Linked DNA regions of Homo sapiens. The protein of the gene in region 1 interacts with the protein of each later gene in a pairwise test. Each region holds a gene or a part of one and is shown on either strand. Other genes may lie near its edges. The genes, in order: LRPPRC and HEBP2.

The links.
Region 2: the proteins of LRPPRC (region 1) and HEBP2 interact in a two-hybrid assay, tested with the Homo sapiens proteins (one study listed by BioGRID).

The regions. Positions count from the first base shown.
Region 1 is NC_000002.12:43,885,241-43,896,288, forward strand, and holds the end of LRPPRC (leucine-rich PPR motif-containing protein, mitochondrial precursor), read right to left. Parts: intron 9,390-11,048; coding exon 9,305-9,389; intron 5,123-9,304; exon of another isoform or gene 4,983-5,122; intron 4,637-4,982; coding exon 4,494-4,636; intron 3,417-4,493; coding exon 3,360-3,416; 3' UTR 984-3,359; downstream 1-983. UniProt on the Homo sapiens protein: May play a role in RNA metabolism in both nuclei and mitochondria. In the nucleus binds to HNRPA1-associated poly(A) mRNAs and is part of nmRNP complexes at late stages of mRNA maturation which are possibly associated with nuclear mRNA export.
Region 2 is NC_000006.12:138,404,632-138,415,679, reverse strand, and holds part of HEBP2 (heme-binding protein 2), read right to left. Parts: intron 10,536-11,048; coding exon 10,400-10,535; intron 9,710-10,399; coding exon 9,529-9,709; intron 2,801-9,528; coding exon 2,602-2,800; 3' UTR 1-2,601. UniProt on the Homo sapiens protein: Can promote mitochondrial permeability transition and facilitate necrotic cell death under different types of stress conditions.

The DNA.
Region 1 (11,048 bases):
TCACGGTGAATTCTCATTGCAAAAGGGCTGCCTGACCCATAGCAGTAGGTGCAGTGTTTAGAACGCACAGAACTGACTACAGACGGCTTGATTTACTGTGACAGGATTATGCTAGGTCTGGGGACACATAATGAGACCAAGAACTGGTCCCTGTGGAGTTCAGAATCTGTGTGGAAGATAGTGTGATACCTGCTCTGCTCAAGCAGCCGTGGAAGCCCTGGAAAGGGAACAATATGCTGGGTGAGGGGCCCAAGAGGCAGAGGTGACACTGACGGTATCTCAGCATTCTCGAAAAAGGGTGCAGGTGCTGAAGGCAGCCTGTCCGTGAGGTGGGTGGGCCCCAGCCATCTAGGGGGATGTAAAATGCTCTGATACAGATAGAACCTCCTTCATTTTAGGTGTCAATTTACCACACACCCAAGCTCTACCTTCTAATTTTTGCCAACTTTATTCCACAGAAGTCTCAAATTATCTGCTTGTCCTTAAAACAGATAAGCACTGACTTTTGTCAGTTGTCTACATACAACCTATAGGCCATTTAACAAGGAAATTCTAGCCATAACAGAGGTCCCTGCCTAAGTTTTAATTTATAATTCTAAGACTGAAGTCTTTTGAAATGGCTTAAAGCACTTGTGCAAACATTTGACAAGATAAAAATGAAGGTGCCAGTTGGGTGCAGGGCCTCGTGCCTGTAATCCCAACATTTTGGGAGGCCAAGGTGGGCAAACTGCTTGAGCCCAGGAGTTCAAGACCAGCCTGGGCAACCGGACAAAACTCTGTTTCTTCAAAATACAAAAAATTAGCTGGCCGTGGTGGCATGCACCTGTAGTCTCAGTTACTTGGGAGTCTGAGGTGGGAGGATCACCTGAGACTGGGAGGTCAAGACTGCAATGAGCCGTGATCACGCCACTGCTCTACAGGCCGGGCAACAGAGTGAGACTGTTTGTTTAAAAAAGAAAAAAAAAAAGCAGCAGCAGCCCACAGATATTTACAGTATACTTTATTCAAAGCATTTCAGTTAAAATTATTTTGGGTTCAAATACATGAACATATAATTATATATAAAATACTATAGTTCTCAATAGTTTACAGTGACATCTTTTTTAGAATTAGCTGCTTATAATTTGAGTGTAAATGTATTACAGAAAGCTGCTAAATTGTTTATATTTCTACTTATTTCAATTTAGCTATTAGATATTTAGAACACTCATAAGCCCACCTACAGTATAGTTATTATACTTTAAATATTTATATTCAATAGGGGAATCAATACAATACAAAAGATATTTGAACAGCTAGTCCTTTGTAACACCCCCCCGCTGCTGCCGAGAGGGCTAGATAAGGGGGTCTTACCTATTTCCTCTGTACCACACTCACATTTTACCAGAGTCCATATACAGGGCCAGTGTGGAGTCACTTCATGCAAATGAGATGGTACTTTCAGTTTCCCCAAAAAGATGACTGCGAAATCCAGATTACACCCCAACGTTATGCCTCACCTTGGAGACCTATTCTAATGAATGTCAATTAGTGAATGTTGACTAACTTGTGGTTAGCATGACTGCAAAAAAATGAGGCCTGCTTCAGTGCAATCACTAAAGACAGGAGTGAGGCTCTTGGCCAGGCGTGGTGGCTCACACCTGTAATCCCAGCACTTTGGGAGGCTGAAGCGAGCGCAGGGGGAGGATCACTTGGGGCCAGGAGTTCGAGACCAACCTGGCCAACATGGTGAAACTCCGTCTTTACCATACAAAAATTAGCTGAACATGGTGGTGCAAGCCTGTAATCTCAGCTACGTGGGAGGCTGAGGCACAAGAATCACTTGAACCCAGGAGGCGGAGGTTGCAGTGAGCTGAGATTGCGCCACTGCACTCTGGCTTAAGCAACAGAGCAAGACTATCTCAAAAAAAAAAAAAAAAAAAAAGATGCTTTTGGCAAACCTGTAACATGTGCAGGTCCTGCATCTGGGCAGTGCTCAAGGGAAAGCCGCACTATGTCCACTGGGCCAAGACTCAACGTTGGCCATGCCCCCTGCTTCCTTAAATCTAACGCCACAAAAAGAGTTGAAGTAAAAGCCTGGCCAATACCATGATGACATCTACTTCCTGGCTTCCCGCCATCAACCCTCCCTCACACCATCTGCGGGCAGGTAGCAGATGCAGGAGAGAGAGTTCCACAAGACAGAAGGTCAACAGCACAAGTTGCAAGAGGCCCGCCTACGTCCCCAAGGCAAGGTCTCCCCTGATGTGAACAGTGTGACCCAAGTTGGCACTGAAACTGGAACAGTAGGGAGTCACCAAATTCAAATGAACAAGGAATACCCCAAAATGGGGAGAGTTCTCAAAACATTTTCAACATTTCGGTAATTAATTACCTCATCTCCAGTTAGGTCAATATTCCATATTATTAAGACACCTTTTATAATGGCAAACTCTCCTGACTACCTATCTTAGAATTTTTTTGAAGTCACTACTTACAGTGTAGATATTAACAGGCATGAGATTCAATATAGGGATCACTTTTATTTCAAACAATTAAATACAAACCAATATTTTACCCCTTCATAGATGAAATCACATCTTTTCAGGATATGAGTATAAAGTAACAAGCCTAGGGCAGAGCTTGTACTGACAAAGTCCTGAAACTACAATGAGAGGAAACACATTGCTCTACTTCGGGATAAGTCATGACCGAGACTCAATTTCAGAGACGCTCTATGAACAGAGGTGCTTGAAGCCACAGTGGCAGAAGGGAAAGATGGGGAAGTGTGCCGAAGAGCCTCCAGGCATGACAGACAGTCCCCTGACCAAGCACAAGTAACAGGCCCTTTGGGTCTCTGCTTCTCACTGGAAAATGATGAAGCCTAGATCTGATGACTCCTAGTGCCAACATTTAACAAAGTTCGAAAGTTATGCAGGACTTCACACATGTACGGAATGGCTGTATCACAGAATATTATGCGTTAGAAAGTTCACGGTCACTATACCTAGCTCTAAAATTTTTCAGAGAAACAGCAGACTAATAAGTGAATCTTAAATAAAGGAATAACATTTTAATGAAATAAATGAAACAGAGCAGGGAAACCAAAGAGCCAATTAGGGGAAGAATCCTGAAAAAGTATGGCTTCACACAGCAGCAGCATTGAAGAAAACACTATCGATTTTTCCCAGAGAAAAAAACTCCAAAAATGTCCAATAACCAAGTGCACAGAGTTATGGTCAATAAGACTTTGAACATGCATCACACATACATAAGTACATAAAGAAAATTTTCATTTATTTTTCCCTCAGATATACTTCAAAATAACATGTAGACACAGAATCACAAATATATACAAAACAAAGTATCGCCTGGTTATTTCAAGAAGAGTTTTCCCTCAATTTTCTTAGCTGCTGTGCATAAAATTCAAAGCTTTCCTGTTAAGGAGAAAAAAAGAGGGAAGTTAGAGATACCAGCAAGAGGTGATGGTACATAACTTAAAAAATCATAAAACACTACCAACTGGTAGCTAAGACTGCCAGGCCCATGGAAGATGCTGCCCCTCAAGCTTCAGTACTCCTTCCTTGTTTCATGAAATCACAAGTTCAAGGGCCTCGGGTTCAGAGTTAAAGCTAGCAGCAGGAGGTAGGGTGCGTGTGTGTATACGTGTGTATGTGCAAGCATGTGTGTGTGCACATATGGAGGTATGGGTATGGAAGGCTGAGGTGTTTGAAATAAACACGGTGTATTGACTCAGTTCAATGACATAACAAAAAGGAATTGTGCATATGTGATTTCTCTTATTAAAGAAAACATGCCGGGCACAGTGGCTCACGCCTGTAATCCCGGCACTTTGGGAGGCCGAGGTGGGCGGATCACGAGGTCAGCAGTTCAAGACCAGCGTGGCCAACATGGTGAAACCCCATCTGTACTAAAAATACGAAAATGTGCCAGGCATGGTGGCAGGCCCCTGTAATCCCAGCTACTTGGGAGGCTGAGGCAGGAGAATCGCTTGGACCTGGGAGGCGGAGGTTGCAGTGAGCCGAGACCGTGCCATTGCACTCCAGCCTGGGCAACACAGCGAGACTCCATCTCAAAAAAAAAAAAAAAAAAAAAAAAAGGCAAAATTTCCTAGACGAAGAAATAAAAACCAACTTATGTAAATGAACAAGTAATTACCACTGACATAATATGCTTGGCTGTTGAACTACAGGCCATTAAATCCTATTTCAAGTTGAAATGAGAGAACTGCCCCAAGGACATTTGGTAAATCCATGCCTATAGCTGAAGGTCTGAGACAGACCTTGTATTTTAAACTGTGGCCCCAGAGAGCTATGTTCTCCGACTGCCGCAGCCAAGGCATGCTGCTCAGTCCCTCAAGCCATCCCCTGAGGGCTCTTCACAGAGATCTAATCCTCATGTAATTAAGTCTTCAACTTATTTTCTTACACATTGTTATGAAGTGCACATAAATCTGCAGAGGTATTTTTTCCCCTTAATTAAGAAATACTCACAGGGGGTTCAATGAAAGGGACAGGCTCTCCAGCATACTTCAGCAAAGATGCGTAACGCTTTAGAAACAGATCATCCAATTTTGTATTCTTTGCAGTCAAATGTTCATACAGTGCTTTAGCAGATGTGACATCTTTCTCTGAGACTGACATAAAGAAAAAAATATATTAATCAGAGATAAAGACAACCTATCTTACTCTTTTCACCAAAACAGCCACTCAGGGACGGCTGGATCCCTTTATCCCACGGCAAATGAACACTTAACTACTTTCAGTAAGAAGCCACATTCAGAATCTACCATCTCCCTCACTTCTCTACATCCCTCATTCGGCATCACTCACTTTGAAGGAGAAGAAAATGACAAATATGGCTACATTTAAAGGACTTTAGAATAATATTGATACCATTCACTTAGGTTATTACATTATTTAAGACCTATGATAGTTCAAGTGACCACAAACTGAAGTCCTCAGTTATAAAATAATACACACCATTCAATCCCCTTTGGCTTAAAACCACTGTGAAATCAAGATAATCCAGGAACTGTTGTGGAGAGGGACATGTCAATTATGTAGAAATCTACATCAACATCAAGATCATCAGCTCAACATCAAAAAAGCTTTTCATTTTTCTATTGTAAAATAAACAAATATGGAAAGTATAGTTAGCTACAATGATACACACACACAAAAAACCTATAGGCCGGGCGCAGTGGCTCACGCCTGTAATCCCAGCACTTTGGGAGGCCGAGGTAGGCGGATCACGAGGTTAGGAGATCGAGACCATCCTGGCTAACATGGTGAAACCCTGTCTCTACTAAAAATACAAAAAATTAGCCGGGCGTGGTGGCGGGTGTCTGTAGTCCCAGCTACTTGGGAGGCGGAGGCAGGACAATGGTGTGAACCCGGGAGGTGGAGCTTGCAGTGAGCCGAGATGGTGCCACTGCACTCCAGCCTGGGCAACAAGAGCGAGACACCATCTCAAAAAACAAACAAAAGCAAAACCTATAAGGAGACATTAACAAGTTACACTAGTTTCACTTAAGTGAATGATGAAATATGTTAGGAGCCAAATTTGGCTGGCTCTCTACTTGTGGCTGATTTGTGGAAATTTTTTAGTTTACCATGGAGATGGTAAGGGCTCTGCTAACAATTACTGCTGGTAATTCAACTCCTTAATTTTGCATTAGATTGTTAGCATCTAAGCATCACATAAACCCCTGCCCTACACTGACTCTGATATTGTCAACCGCAACTCCGGCAGCACCAGGGGAACCCCTAAGACAGAGGTGAGACGTTCAGCAATCAAAGAGTCTCCCAAAGTGGAATGAGGGTGACTCATCAGCTCTTAGTGGAGTTGGAACACATCTTTGCTGTTTCCATGAAGTCAACTTCTTGTGTAAATCCTTTATTTCCCTTCCTGAGGAGCTGAACCCTTTAAGGGCTCAAGCTCTATCTTCTAGGAAGCTGCTCCGAAAATTCTGGCATCTTGCCTTTCTTTACTTCTTGATTTTCTACCTTCCTCCCAAAATGGATTACCTAATTTAGTAGTAACACACACAGATTTATGCGCTTGACACTATTTCACATTACAGGCATACCTTGGCTTTAATGCACTTTACAGATGTTGCGTTATTTACAAATTGAAGGTTTATGGTAACCCTGCCTTGGGCAAGTCTATCAATGCCATTTTTCCAACAATATGTGCTTACTTTGTGTCTCTGTGTCACATTTTGGTAATTCCTGGAATATTTCAACCTTTTTCATTATTGTTATATCTGTTACGGTGATCTGTGACCAGTGATCTTTGATGTTACTATTGTAATTGGGGGATGCTATGAACCATACACATGGAAGATGGCAAACTTGAGAAACGTGTTCTGACTGCGATGCTGACTAGTAATTCTCCTGTCTTCCTCTACTCAGGCCTCCCTATTCTGAGACACAACAATATTGAAATTAGGCCAATTAAAAACCCTATTATAGCCTCTAAGTGTTCAAGTGAAAGAGTCATACATCTCTCATTTAAATCAGAAGCGAGAAATGAAATGATTAAGCTTAGCTTAGTGAGGAAGGCATGTCAAAAGCCGAGATACGCTGAAAGCTAGGCTTCTTGCGTGGAACAGCCAGTTGTGAATGCAAAGGAAAAGTCCTTGAAGGAAATTAAAAAGGTGCTACTTCACTGAACACACAAATGATAAGAAACTGACACAGCCTTACTAGTGACATGGAGAAAGTTTTATTGGTCCGGATAGAAGATCAAACCAGCCACAACATTCCCTTAAAAGCCAAAGCCTAATCCAGTGCAAGGCCCTAATACTAGCAGAGGCTGGTTCATGAGGTTTAAGGAAAGAAGCCATCTCCATGACACGAAAGTCCAAGGTGAAGCAGCAAATGCTGATGCAGAAGCTACGGCAGGTTATCCAGAAAATCTAGCTAAGACCACTGATGAAGGCGGCTACACTAAACAACAGATACTCCATGTAGATAAAACAGTCTTATATTAGAAGATGTCATCAAAGATTTCATAGCTAGAGAGGAAAAGCTAATGCCTAGCTTCAAAGGACAGGCTGACTCTATTTTCAATGGCTAATGCAGCTGGTGACTTTATGTTGATGCCAATGCTCACTTACCATTCCCAAATCCTAGGGCCCTTAAGAATTACGCTAAATTTATTCTGCCTGTGTTCTATAAATGGAACAACAAAGCCTAGAGGACAGCATGGATGTTTATACATGGTTCACTGAGTATTTAAAGCCTGCTGTAGAGACCTACTGCTCAGGAAAAAAAAGATTCCTTTCAAAATATTACTGCTCAGTGATAATGCACCTGGTCACCCAAGAGCTCTGAAGGAGATATACAGGGAGATTAATGTTGTTCTCAGGTGCCCTAATAAAACATCCATTCTGCAGCCCATAGATCAAGGAGTAATCTTGACTTTCAAGTCTTAACACATTTTGGGCTCACTTCGGCAACACATATACTGAAATTGGAATGATACAGAGAAGATTAGCATGGCCCCTGCACAAAGATGACACGCAAATGTGTAAAGCGTTCCATGTTTTAAACATAAAATTAAAAAAAAAAAACATGTTTCATAAGGCTATAGCTGACACAGACAGTGATTCTTCTGATGGATCTGGGCAAAGTAAACTGAAAACCTTCTGGGAAGGGTTCACCATTTCTAGATGCCATTAAGAACATCTGTAATTGATAGGAGGTCAAATTATCAACATTAACAGGAGTTTGGGAGAAGCTGATTTCAACCCTCATGGATGAACCCCTTGAGGGTCTCAAGATTTCTGTGGAGGAAATCACTGCAGATGTGGAAATAGCAAGACAACTAGAAGGAGAAGTGGAGCGTGAAGACGTGACTGAATTGCTACAATCTCATGATCAGACTTAACATGAGGAGAAGCTGTTTCCTATGGATGACCAAAGAAAGTGGTTTCTTGAGAAGGAATCTACTCTTGGTAAAGATGCTGTGAACACTGTTGAGATGACAACAAAGGATTCAGAATATGACATAAATTTAGTTAATAAAGCAGTGGTATGGTTTGAGAAGATTGATTCCAATTTTGAAAAGACATTCAATTGCAGATAAAATGCTAACAAACAACATCGCATACTACAGAGAACTCTTTCGTGAAAGGAAAAGTCAGCTGATGTGGCAAACTTTATTGTTGTCTTAAGACATCTCAACCTTTAGCAATCATCACCCTGATCATTCAGCAGCCATCAACATTGAGCCAAGACCTTCTACCAGCAAGATTATGACTCACTGAAGGCACAGATGATCGTTAACTATTTTTAGCAATATCTTAAAATTAAGGTATGTACTTTTTAAAAACATAATGCTATTGCACACTTAATACACTACACTATGGTGTAAACATAACTTTTATATGCACTGGGAAACCAAAAAATTCATGTAACTTTGTTCATTATATTTGCTTTATTGTGGTGGTCTGGAACCATATCTTCCAGGTATGCCTGTGTTTAGTTACTGGAAATTTGATAAATTTTATGACTATTAGCTCTATTTTGAAATAATACAGAATGTTCTCCCTGTAAGGACGGAAAAAGAGAACTGACTTACTAATTCTGATTCTTGAGTCTGTTGTCCTCCCATAGATAAAATCAATGAAGCAATTCTTTATTTACCCCATGCCTCCAGTGAGCAAATCAGTGGGCCACAGATGGAGAGGTGATCATGATTGAGAAATGCTAACATTTATTTTGATGACTGAGGAAACTTTAGACAATTTCCTTTCATATGTGATTGTCTGGCAATCAGGGAACAAACTGGTTAAAAGACCAGAATTTGAACTGGGACGTAAAAACCTTGGGCTACTTTTTAATCAAGGGTCTGTCATTTCAAAGGAGTAGCAGGCAAGCAGAGAGGGTACTGAAGGAGCAAGAAGGCCAGTTAAGTGAGTCTCAAATGTGTACTTGTTTCAGGTGGCAGGCCCTTGGGGAGACTGAACTGGTTTCTGATATATAAGTCCAAGAGGATTTCCAGGTCTTCCCAGGAGCCTGGGATTCTACTCAATATACCCGGACTGCTCGGAAGATGTTCAGTGATACTTTTTAATGTTAAAGTTATATGCATAATTTCATATTTTTCTTAATAGTTTAAAAACATATTCCAGAACTGAGTTATTTATATCATAATTATCTGATATTTAGGATTACTGCCTTTGAGCTGAAGACTAAGACTTAGTTCACTATACTACAAGTCATTTACATGATATAGTCACTTAAATAATAAAGCCATTTAAATAAATAATATAGTCAAATTAAACTTATATTACCATAGCTTTTCATGAGGGAATTGTATGCTTCTTCCTTTTCATTTAATTCAGGAATCAATTCTAACACAGATTTCACAGTTGATGCCTAGGAAATTACATAAAGGTAATATTATGAAAACCGCAAATTAACAGTGAATTAGAACACTGACAAATCAACACTATATTAAAAATTTTCACAATAATTATAACAGAACTACCTATTAAATTTAATGCACTATTGTCCCTTGTATATTAGCATTTGATATTGACTCAATAATCTACAGCTAAAAGAAACCAGCATTTTTCCACAGGTTAATGCAATTCCACTTACATTTCTATGAATATTTTTCTAGAATATGATAAACACATTGCTTCTTTTGTCAAGTGGTGACCATACCAAGAAGTTATGAGATCCCAAGGGTAGAGAGATAACAACCCTATCTTTAGGTGCCACAACTGGTTGATGAAATTGTAAAGAATTCAGTTAAAACATTCTGAAGTGTTACACACTTGACATACAAAAAAGAGCATTTCCAGAATCTCACTGAAATTTTTACTTATTTCTTCCAGGAATATGCAGACTCGGCTATGGCTTTATTTCCTGTAGCGAGTGAATACAGAACTGCTATGCCGTAATGAATATCTGCTGAGTATTTCCCGCCCTACTCCAACGTTACTGGATAAACCCATGATGGATATATAAACATCTATGCCCTCTTCCCATCTCACCAAGAGGAGCAAAATCTGGCTTAACTATTCTACTGTCAAGCAATGGAACACTGTTAACAGGCATCTTAAAAATCCTAACTCCTTTCTATAGCATGTTTATTCAGTCAATCCACACCTGGACCTGCATCCTCCCAGGGCTTCTTCTATTTTAAACTGTCCTGGGTGGGATGTTCTAAGCAGACATATTGCCGTGCATTTCCCGTCCCATCTCCTGGACAAGGCAACAGGGACTTGGCACAGTCCCACAGGTGGACTGACAAGTGCTTTTCAGATTCCTTATACTTTTTAATCACACGTATAAAAACACAGCCTCTCTGAAAGGAAAGAAGGGGCAATTAAATATTTTCTAAAAGTTGTTGGTAGTAAATAAATACATGAGTCACAGATGCAATGAAGCAAATTTTTTAAAAGTGTAGGTATATCTAGGGGAAGGGTGTAGAAATTCAGGAAAACGTAGACCTCCCAAACTGGACACAGCCTAAATGTTTCAAATAAAACAAGCATCACAGTTGGCATGTGGTTTGAAACTTCATAAAGAACCCAAATAAACTAAGAATGTAGTTTCTCGTATACAAGAGGTAAAATCCGATCTAAGAGAAATTTAATTTTATACTTACAGTTAAACATCAAAGTAGAATGTGATATACCTACTATGTACCCACAGAAATTTTTTTTTAAAAAATTTTTTCAAAAGGACTTGGTTCTATTACATACCCACCCACCCCTTTTACAGTGTAAATAAAGTAACTGCACAAATTAGAATTAATTTGTGGCTCCATATCAATTTGAAAGCCAAGTGGCTCATTTACCTGATGGTTTATACCTGATAAATGCTCAAAAGTAGCCACGTGCTAGGAGACACTCTGGAGTGTACATTTTCCTTGGTAGTGCTTCTGCATTGTTAAATGTCCCAAGGTGACCGAAGCAACATAATTTTAATCTTCCATTTCTTTCTTTCTTTCTTTCTTTCTTTTTTTTTTTTTTTTTTTTTGTAAAGACCAGGTTTCGCCATGCTGGCCAGGCTGGTCTCAAACTC
Region 2 (11,048 bases), on another chromosome or scaffold:
AATCCTGTGCTTGGCCTTCAGCTTGCTCTGCTTGGCTACAGCATGAGATGAGGATTGTTGGCAAGCTACCACAGAGACTCTGCGGCTCACACTTAGTTTTGTTTGTTAATTGACCTCAGCTTTTCATTATCCACTTGCAGGACGTCAATCCAACTCAGCAATAACCATGGAAGCCCACTGTCCTTGTCTCTTTTATCCACCCTTCCCATATTTGAGACACCCAAATCACCCACCAGTCATTGCGTTCCCCTGCACCAGCATGCCATTTCATCTGAAGTCTTCATCACTGGACAGCCTTCTTGTGCCAGGGACTGTCTGTGCCACCTATCCACCAGGGATGGGGGCCTCCGAGCCAGCCAGACAGTGAGTCACTCAGCCTGCAAATGCTGTCTTACCACCTACGTTCGTGGGCCACTGGTACCAATTGTGCCAATTTTAGGCTGAGATGGAGTTAGGAGTACAAAACTGGTGAAGTGACATCTCTGAAAGGAAAAGGGAAAAGCAGGATTGAGCAGAGGAACGGTAGGATCTAACAAAGTCTCTAGCAGCCCACCAAAAAGCTCCAGAGCAGAGACTGCTTATTAGAGGGCTTTCGAGTTGGTAGAAATGACTAGGACTTTTTTTTTTCTTTCTGAGACAGGATCTTGCTCTGTCACCCAGGCTGGAGTGCAGTGGCATGATCAGGACTCACTGCAACCTCCGCCTCCCGAGCTCAAGCAATCCTTTCACCTCAGGAGCTAGGAATACAGGCGTGTGCCACCACGCTTGGCTAATTTTTTATTTTTTGGACAGACAGTCTCACTAGGTTGCCATGACTCGTCTTGAACTTCTGGGCTCAAGCAATCCTCCCACCTTAGCCTCCCAAAGTGCTGGAATTACAGCTGTGAGCCACTGCACCTGGCCTAAATGGCTAGGTCTTATACCACCACCTTGCTCAGTTATTGGCTGGGAATTGCCAGAAAAAAGCATGCTGTCAGCTACCACTGCCTTGCTCAGTTGTAGACTAGGTCCCTCTCTCCCACAGAATAGTGTGTCCTTATCTTGAAATCTGGCGTGGACCCTGAAGACGGTAACGGGGAGACTGTCGGCGAACCACACCCCTCACAGCTGGGCGGCTGGTACTTTCTTGAAGGTGAATTTGAGTGGCACACCTCACGTTGTCTGCCACCACTTCAAATCCTGAATAAAACTGACCATCCTTTGGCCACAGTAGCAATTAAGTACCAGAAACAATCAATGACAATTTCCCATCAGTAACCTCACCTCCAAACTAGGCTTCTAAATCATGCTAATCAGCAGCGGCCTCACTCTGGTAACTGCATCCCCACAACTAAAGCTCCCTCGACTCCTAAATGCTTTTGAAAGTCTGTTAATCCTTCCTAAAACCCTGCATAAGGTCCGCAGTTTTCTTTATCCGAGAGACCGTGCCCTACAAGAGCAGTGCTCTCTTGCTCAGCAAGCAGTGTGTGCAGCTTTTTGTTCTGGGTACTGAACGTGGCCTCTCCCTTTAACACTGTCACCTCTGCCCAAGATGCTCCCCTCACCTCTGCCCCTGGCTTTCATCTGACTCATCCTCGTCATTCAAGTCTCAACTGTCTCTTGAGAGGCCTTTGCTGACCACCTTATGTGATGTCCACCACACCCTACCTAACCACACTCTACCCCACTGCCCTATTCTGTTCTTCATCACACTTGCCAATTTCAAGCATCTTATTTGTGTTGAACTCCCTCACCCTCTAGAATGTAAACTCCATGAGGCCAGGGGCCTTGTCTGTGGTGTTCACAGTGGGAGGGTGAATGAAATAGTTAAGGAGGTGGAAAGATGTTGTTGGAGTTAGTGAAGAGGAAGTCAGTGATGAGGGGCTTGGGACACAGGTTTTCTTACCACCACCTCCCAGTCCTTAGCAGAGTGCTTGGAACATAGCAGGGACTCCCTACAATGAGTTAAAGAATGAATGAAAATACGTGACAGTTCAGGGAAATGTTTAGGGGAAAAAGCAAGATTTTTAGGGGGTTAAGTGGAGACCAGAAAGAAAGGAATGAATTCATTACATTTAAATGGAGTTACATGGAGTATTCTTGTGCAGTGGGGCAGTGGGAGGATGCAGGAGGGAAAGTAATACATACAACAGAGAATGTAATGGTGGCAGCCACAAAAGACAATTTGATTTTTGTGTCCAGCTGAATTTCACCTCTCCGGGCCTGACAGCCTAGGGGTTCCACACAAGATAAATAATTTTAACATTTTATTGATACTATCTGGAGGGGATATCATCCAACTGACACAAATCCAAGAAAAAAAAAAGGGAATATGATTGTGATGCAGTGAAGGAGGGAAGTGACATGAAATTTCCCTAGATCCTCACAGAAATAAAGACCACGATAGTTATGACCGATTTATATGTTTACAGACTACTGTCCTCTGTTACCTGTGTATGTAGATAAAACTTCAAGCATTAAAAAGGCACATTGGAAATAAGCTTAATTAATAGTAGTACTCTCAATAGAAGACACTAGACACGCACTTTACTTATAGGTCATGTTGATGTCTATGATAAACAGATGTTTTGCCTCTGACAGCAGAACTTCCTTTCATTTTTCTCATTCGTTTTCTTTGGTGGGTTCATTTTTTTGAATCAACCACACTTCATTATTTCTATTAAGCAATTTGACAGGACTGTTGTAGCCTGCAGTGTAGTAAACCTTCTCATCGAAAACTTTTCCATCTTCCCTTAAAATGCTTGCTAATGTCAAAAGTTGTTCTTGATTCTTTTGGGCACTAGAAAATCCATCGAAAGACCTACAAAGGAGAAAGGAAATAACCGTGAATGATTTTAATACTGATGTGAATGTCAGTCTGAAGCAAAAAGCGGGCGCTAGTACCGTGAATGCTGAGTGAAGTGCAGCTCCAAAGTTACTCCCTCTCGGCCAGGCGAGGTGGCTCACACCTGTAATCCCAGGACTTTGGGAGGCCAAGGTGGGCGGATCACTTGAGGTCAGGAGTTCAAGACCAGCCTGGCCAACATGGTAAAACCCCATCTCTAATAAAAATACAAAACTTAGCCAGATGTGGTGGCGGATGCCTGTAGTCCCAGTTACTTGGGAGGCTGAAGCAGGAGAATCGCTTGAACCTGGGAGGTGGAGGTTGCAGTGAGCCAAGATCACGCCACTGCACTCCAGCCTGGGCGACAGAGTGCAAGACTCTTTCTCAAAAAATAAAAATAAAAAAAGCTACTCCCTCTCAGCAGATGAACTGACCACTCCTGCCTGTGATTCCCAGTCTCCATGTGACCTCAGAAGCACTGAGGAAACCCAGGAGGATGCATCCCCTCCTTCCATCTGTTGACAGGTGGATTTGGAACCTACACAATCTCAAGTGCTCTACCCTGTGCTTCTCAAACCTTTAACGTGCATACAGGTCACCTGGGGATTTTGCTACGATGCAGATTCAGGTCTGGGGTGGGGCCTGAGAGTGTATTTCCTCCGAGCTCCCACATCCATGCCGGTGCTGCTGATCAGAGAACTACACCAACACCCCTGTAGAAGCCCCTTTTCCAGACTCGATTTTCACTTGCACATTGCCCCTTTTTCCCTCTCCTAAGGAAAAGAATAAACACTGGATTACAGATGAATATGATACAGTTTTCACCTCTCTGAATTTATGATCCAATGGAAGAGATCAACGTTCTGGCAGCTCTCTCTATACATCCTGAGGTTTTTTTGTTTGTTTGTTTTTTTGAGACAGAGTCTCACTCTGTCTGTTGCCCAGGCTGGAATATGGTGGCAGAGCATCCTTGACCTCCTGGGCTCAAGCAGTCCTCCCACCTCAGCCTCCCAAGTTGCTGGAACCACAGGTGCACATCGGACTAATTTTTTAAAAAACCTGTAGAGACAGGGTCTTACTGTGTTACCTAGGCTGGTCTCAAACTCCTGAGCTCGAGTGATCCACCTGCCTTGGCCTCCCAAAGCAATGGGATTATAGGCATAAGCCACCACGCCCGGCCTCTGAGAAGGGTTTTAAACAGGGACAGGATCAAAGTGTTGTGGGAGCGTTGAGGACCTGATTAAATCTGGGGTAAGGAGAATCATCTGAGTTGGGCCTGAATGGAGGATGGTTTTGCTGAACAAAGAAAGGGGAGTGATAGGAAAGAGACCATAAATCTAAAAATACCAAGTGTTTTCATAGTGAGGCATAAAATGAGGTCAGGAAGGTGAGTCAGAACTAGAAGGAAGAACCCTGTGCATTAGCCTAAGGCCTTTTGAGGTTATTTCCAAGGATGTTGAGCTGAAATGTGCAACTTGATAAGATCTGGATTAGAATATAGGCAGACATATAATAGACTGGTGAGGAAGGATCCAGTCAGGAGGCTGCTGTGGGGAAGTGGAAGAAAAGACAGTCAAAAGATTAAAACAAAAAGTGGGAAAAGAGAATAAAAGTTTAAGTATACATTCTACAGTATATAAACAAAAACATCCTGAGATTAAATCATGACAGCACTGACCTAGCTGAGCTGCTGACATGCAAGCATGATGAATTTGATTTTGAGGGTTAAGAATAAGAAACACTGAGAAACAAAACTTTTCCTAATATGCCTTCTTTGGTATAAGTTCTGTTATCAATGTGCCAGTGCAAAAAATCAATCCTACCACGCTTCAGCTGAGGTGTCATCTCTTTTAAGGGTACAAACCATGTCTGCTTTATATAACAATGTCTACCCAGCACCCAGAACCATTCCTGGCATGCAGTTCCCTTTTAATCCTGTCAAGTGTAGGAATCTCTGCATGCACATGTATGCAAAATAAAACACTGCAGGTGAGTTGATATAACTCTTCCATTCTATCATTTTCATGTCGATTGAATATAATTCTGAACCATGGGTTAAGAAACATTTTGGGCCAGGCATGGTGGCTCACGCCTGTAGTCTCAACACTTTGAGAAGCCAAGGCGGGTGGATCACCTGAGGTCAGGAGTTCCAGACCAGCCTGGCCAAGATGGTGAAACCCCGTCTCTACTAAAAATATAAAAATTAGCCAGGCATAGTGAGGAGGGGTGACTGTAATCCCAGCTACTCGGGAGGTTGAGGCAGATGAATCACTTTGAACCTGGGAGGCGGACATTGCAGTGAGCTGAGATTGCGCCATTGTATTCCAGCTTGCGCAACAAGAGTGAAACTCCATCTCAGAAAAAAAAAAAAAAAAAGAAAGAAACATTTTGGCTCTTAAATGTATTATTTATTTCCTTGATGAATAACCAATGCTTAGCATGTTCTGCCTAAAAGGAATTTGTTTTCAAATTCATTTTCCCTTAAAATCAAATACTGAACCCTCTAATTAGAAATAAGCTTTTGTTCTCTGACTGTGTGTTGTTTCACAATGATCTATTCACTGTTTTATTCAGAACACAGACAACATATATGGTGCTTGCCTCCCTCACCCCCACGTGCCTGCCTTGCCAGGGGCTGGAATATATGGACATAGTAACATGCTGTCATATTCTTGAAGAAATTTCCGTCTATAAATAAGCCACTATTACTTAGAAGAAGAAGAATAGAAGGGCCCCAGGACAGAGTACCTAGCTAGGTGGAGAAATTGAAGAAGGCATCACAGAAAAGGTGTCATTTGTCCTGTAGGGTGGCAATGGGCTCTCCAGGAAGAGGAAAAAGAGAGTACTAGAGCTAGGAATGCTTGATGCTCATGTTCCAAGTGTTTTACATAAATTAACTCATCCGATCTTCATGGCAACCCTATGAGATAGTAAGTATTATGATCACACGCATTTTAAAACAGGGAAATTTTAGCAAGGAAAAGTGGACTAACGTGCCTGAGGTCAAAGGTAACAAGATGTGGAAGAACATGGCATGTTACATGAAGGGTGAGAAGCCCAAGTGGTGGGAAGGGGAGCTGCTGAGACAGGGCTGGGCCAGGTCATATGTGGCACTGTGCACCGTGTGAACAATCTGAGCTTCCCTGGGGAGGCAAGAGGAATCCAACGGAGATTTTGGGCTTTTGTCATTGTGGTAAGAAAGATGACAGTTCCAGTGTGGAAGAGGAAAGGAAAAGACTGGTGGCAGGGAAGACGGCTTGCAGGCTACTGAAGTGAAATAGTCAAGAAATAATTCAGTTAAGATCAATCAACATCCCAGTATCTATTGGGAATGTCAGGCTTGTGCCAAGAACTGGGGTACACAAAGATGACTTAGTGCGGTCCCTAGAAGAGGAAGACCCGAGTAAGTCACAATGGTGATAGAGAGGAGGGAACAAAACCCTGAATCATTTTTGAGGTGAATGGGCCAGATTTGACAATCAATTGTCAGGAACATTGTGCTGATGGTGACTGTAAATTCCTTGCTCAGGAAGCTGTCTTGACTGTGCATGGTGGCTCATGCTTGTAAACCCAATGCTTTGGGAGGCTGAGATAAGTAGACTGCTTGAGCCCAGGAGTTCAAGACGAGCCTGGGCAACATAGTGAGATCCTGTCCCTACAAAAAATAATAAATTAGCTGGGCATGGTGGTGGCACATGCTACTCAGGAGGCTGAAGTGGGAGGATCCCTTGAGCCCAGATGTTCCAGGCTGCAGTGAGCTATGATCATGCCACTGTACTCCAGCCTGGACAACAGAGCGAGACCCTGTCTCAGAAAAAAAGAAAAAAAAAAAGAGGAGCCTATCTGGCTGATGAGGCCCTCAACTGAGACAGGCACTATAAGATCAGAGATGTGGGAATTGGGCAAAGGCTCATTTTTAGGGTTGTTGAGTTTGATTCCCCCAACCCCAAAGAGAGATGTCCAACAAGTAGGGAAATCAGATCTGGAGACACTTAATAGATGGGAGAATCATTCGACTGAGGGAGTTGAAGCAATATGAATGGATTGCCCAGAACAAGTCGGCTATGAAATGAGGGTCTAAAACAGGCATCGACAGTGATCCTAGGGTAGGGAGCTGAGGAGCCAACGGAGGTAAAGAAATGGGACAGGAGAAATGACAAGAGAGTGACACTCTGAAAGTTAAAGGATAAGCAAGTATTAAGGGAACAGATTCGTCCACACATGACTGCTGTAAGGGTCATGTGGGAGAGGACAGTAACCACGTGGCAGATACAGAGGCACTGCTGAGGATGGCAACGGCAGTCTAAGGAGAGAGTGGGAGTCATACCAGATCATGGTGATTTGCGGTAAAGGCCATTCTCATAAGGTCTCGGATGGAAATGAGGAACATTTGTTGGAACTTGGAGGAAAGGTGACCCTTGTCATGACATGGCAAAGAAACTGTGTTTGTGTCCCAGTGTAATGTGGACAGTACAACTTGTGAGTTATGAAATAGGATATTTGGCTGAACATTTTCTAAGCAAAATGTGAATGGAAGATGTGGCTTCGCTTCTCTTGATAGTAAAATACAAGAAGAGAGAATTTAAAGAGTAAATTTTTAATCAAAAGGGAAGCAGAACTTAAACATCTGGAAAATTCTTAGCCTATCTACATTAAAAGAAATGAGAAAGCTTGTTCAAGAGAGAACAAGGGTAAGGCCAAGCAACCCTTTGATAAGGAGATGAATGTGGAACTGCCATCTAAACAGAAACCAGGACCTATTCTCCAGCATAATGGAAGAACGATGCCAAAGGCATTTTAGAAATTATGAGCTGCCTCTCCCATCACATGCCAAGTTTCAGTGCCTGGGGAGGGCAGAACAATTTCAAAGGAGGGTCTTTGGGCACCTGGGGGGCCTTGGAACTCACTGCCTAGCACTGCCTCACCAATCTGTTTCCTGCATTCCAGTGCAGCCCTCCTTGGATGCCCCAGGTTCAGCTCCAGTGGGCTGAGGTGTGGCCTGGGCTGTGATGTCTGTCCCTCCGGAAGGCACAGGCAGTTAACCTCAGCAGCATCCATGTGGTGCCGACCTCTGTCAGTACATGAGCTGTGGGGGTGTGGCTACCTCCACCTTGAAGGATGGAGCTGCCCAGGGCCTTGGGTATGTGACCCAAGCAGAGGGCCACAGTGAGACCAAGCTACTGCAGTGAGTCCCCAATAGGGAAATGGCTAACAGAGCCATGGGAGCCGGGCACACCAGACTGGGAGGGCCACCGGTGTGCAATTCGAGCCTGGTAGAGCTGCAGGGTGGGGTCCCTCCAACTGTGAGAGCTGCAGTGGGGTTGGGCCATCCAAAGCCATGGCCAGGGCCACTTGAAGCCTTGGGGGCCCAACCTCTGTTCAGCAGAGCTTCACAAGTGGGACCTTCATCCCAGTGGGCCCAGAGGGAAGAGCTTTGAGTCAAAGAAAATTAATCTGAAGATTTAGAACTTACTTGGAACCTGTTACCCATTTCTTTTTTCCCATTTCTTCCTTTGGAATGCAGTATTTATCCTATGTCTGTCCCACCATTGTATTTTGGAAGCATATAATATGTTTGATTTCACAGGTTCATAGATGGAGGGGAATCGGCCGCAGGATGAACTGTACCTTGAGCCTCAGATTTGATTTTGATGATCTTTAGATGAATTTAGGCTTTTGCTGGAATGAATTAAGACTTTTGAGGCTATTGGGATAGAATGAATGTATTCTGCATGTGAGATGATATGAATTTTACAGGATCAGGGCAGAATGCTATGAACTCTATGTTTGTGTCTCCCCAAAATTCATATATACATTTTTCTTTTTGTTGAGACAGGGTCTCAGTCACCCAGGCTGGAGTGCATTGGTGCAATTACGGCTCACTGCAGCCTCGACCTCCTGGGCCCAAGTGATCCTCCTACCTCAGCCTCCCAAGTAGCTGGGACCACAGGCATGTGCCACCAGGCCTGGCTAATATATATATATACATTTGGTAGAGATGGGGCCTTGCCATGTTGCCCAGGCTGGTCTCTAACTCCCAGGCTCAAGTGATCCACCTGCCTCAGCCTCCCAAAGTGCTGGGCCTCAAAATTCATATTTTGAAAACCTAATCACTAATGTGATAGTATTAGGAGATGAGGCCTTTGGAAAGTGATTAGGTCATGAGGGTAGAGCCTTGTAAAACATGTCCAATAAAGCTGCCTTGCCTCTTCCACCACATGAGGGCATTTCTGAGAAGGTTCCATCTATGAACCAGGAAACGGGCCCTCACCAGTCACTGAAACTGCCAGCACCTTAAACTTGAACTTCCTTGTCTCCAGAAATGTGAGAGAGAAATTTCTGTTTTTCATAAACTACCCAGCCTACGGTATTTTGTTACAACAGCCTGAACAAACTAAGACTTCTGTTTTAAGGTATTTTTGTTCAGGTCTAACTATATTGCAGTCTTTTGTTTTGGGAGCATATAATTTGCACCGTGTCTTATATGAAGGGCATGCAATAGACTCATTAAATGAAGTGATTATTATCTTGTGACAGACCTCAGTAACATATACAACAAAGCCAGTAGGAAAACATCACAAAATGCATTAGACCTGATTTTATGGAAGGGTGAAAAAGCCTTTTGAAATTGCATTGGAGCTAAACTGTGAGTGCACGCAAGTAAAACTAGCAGTCAGCAAGGCTATAAATTATCTACCACTTACCGTACAAACACAGTCATTTCGGCTCTATCTTCAATGAAGACATCTGACTCTAAAGGCCTGGGTGGATCAAATTGCTGTTCAGAGGGAATATACAGGGAAATGGTAATGGTAGACTCACTAAAAGGACCTGAACCAGGCTCCACGTAGCTTGTCACTGGAGCTGTCATCTTTATTTTCATCTCTGTGACATAAAAATGAAAGCAAATTTAGTGTATTTTTGACAGCTTTAAACATTTAACCTATTCTTTTTTGATCTGGGTTCCTTGATTTACTTCACATTGTTGACATATTTACCTTTAAGATAATTTTCATCTTAAAACAGTAAGGCCAAAATTACTCAATTGCTCACTGCCCACATTAAACCACTTTCTGTAATACTGATATTCTGGGTTAATAAATTCTTAATTTTTAGAGATAAAAGGGGAAATTAGAGATTACATGGTCAGTAAATTATTTTTTCTTACCATTCAGAAAATGAGGTCCCACAGGCTAAGAGACCTGCTAAAATATAAATAGCAGCAAAGCCAGACCAAAAGCTATGACTTGATGCTTCTAATCTTGGTACCTTCTTGCCTCCTGACGTCTCTGATCCTACCAGTCACCAAATTATCTTGAGGTGTTAGCCATAGAAAAGGACTTATCACGAGTTACACCAAACCCCAGTTCATCCAGCAAAATCAGAGAACAGAGGTTGAAAAGTAATACCCAGTGTAACCCTGGTCCTGAGGAGTCTTGTCTGAAAACAAGACAAGTCTTTGATGACTTGCTTATTTTTCCATTATAAAGGATATTTCTTTAATAAGCTAAAACTCAATAATAAGCCCGGGGACTCTTTCACAATATGCATAATTACAAGGAAAACTGCTTTTACCTTTCTCGTTTTTGCCTTGAATGTAGCTGTTCAGTTTCGTAAAGCCCGTCTGGATGGCTGAATCCCAGTCCATAGACTCCACGGACGTGCTGACCCACTTGGCTGGTCCATAGTGTCGGATCTCATAACTTCCGGGCTAAAGTGGAACAGAGAAAACTTCGAGAAGCAATTCTAAGAGGGTAGGAGTGAGATGCAAAAATACCGGTGCCATGATCTCGGGTCGACCTGGAGCCGTCCTGTCTAGGGGCTGCACCGCCCCGGGGTCCGGCCTGAGGTCCCCGCTCCTTAGGTCTGGGAGGTTCCCCTCCACGAGGTTCCCCTCCTTGCGATTAGGGACCGCAGCGGCCCCAACCCCACACGCTGGGGACTCGATTCACACTTTCAGACAAGCATCTATTACACCCCCTCGGTTCGGAGGGTTCCACCGCGCGTTCTGGGACGTAACCAGTTCCTCCCCGCCCCACCACCCCGCAAAGACAAGAAATTGAGATGGGACCTGCACTGGGGGTAGCGGGGAGGGTAGAGCTAAATGACCGGGGTTTCTCGTTTGCGTAGCATAGTGGGTAGGGACTGGGACCATTTAAAAAACTGTACTTTTTACTTAACTCTATGGGACCCGCTGGCCTCACTGCAAATCAGCCGGAAGGCG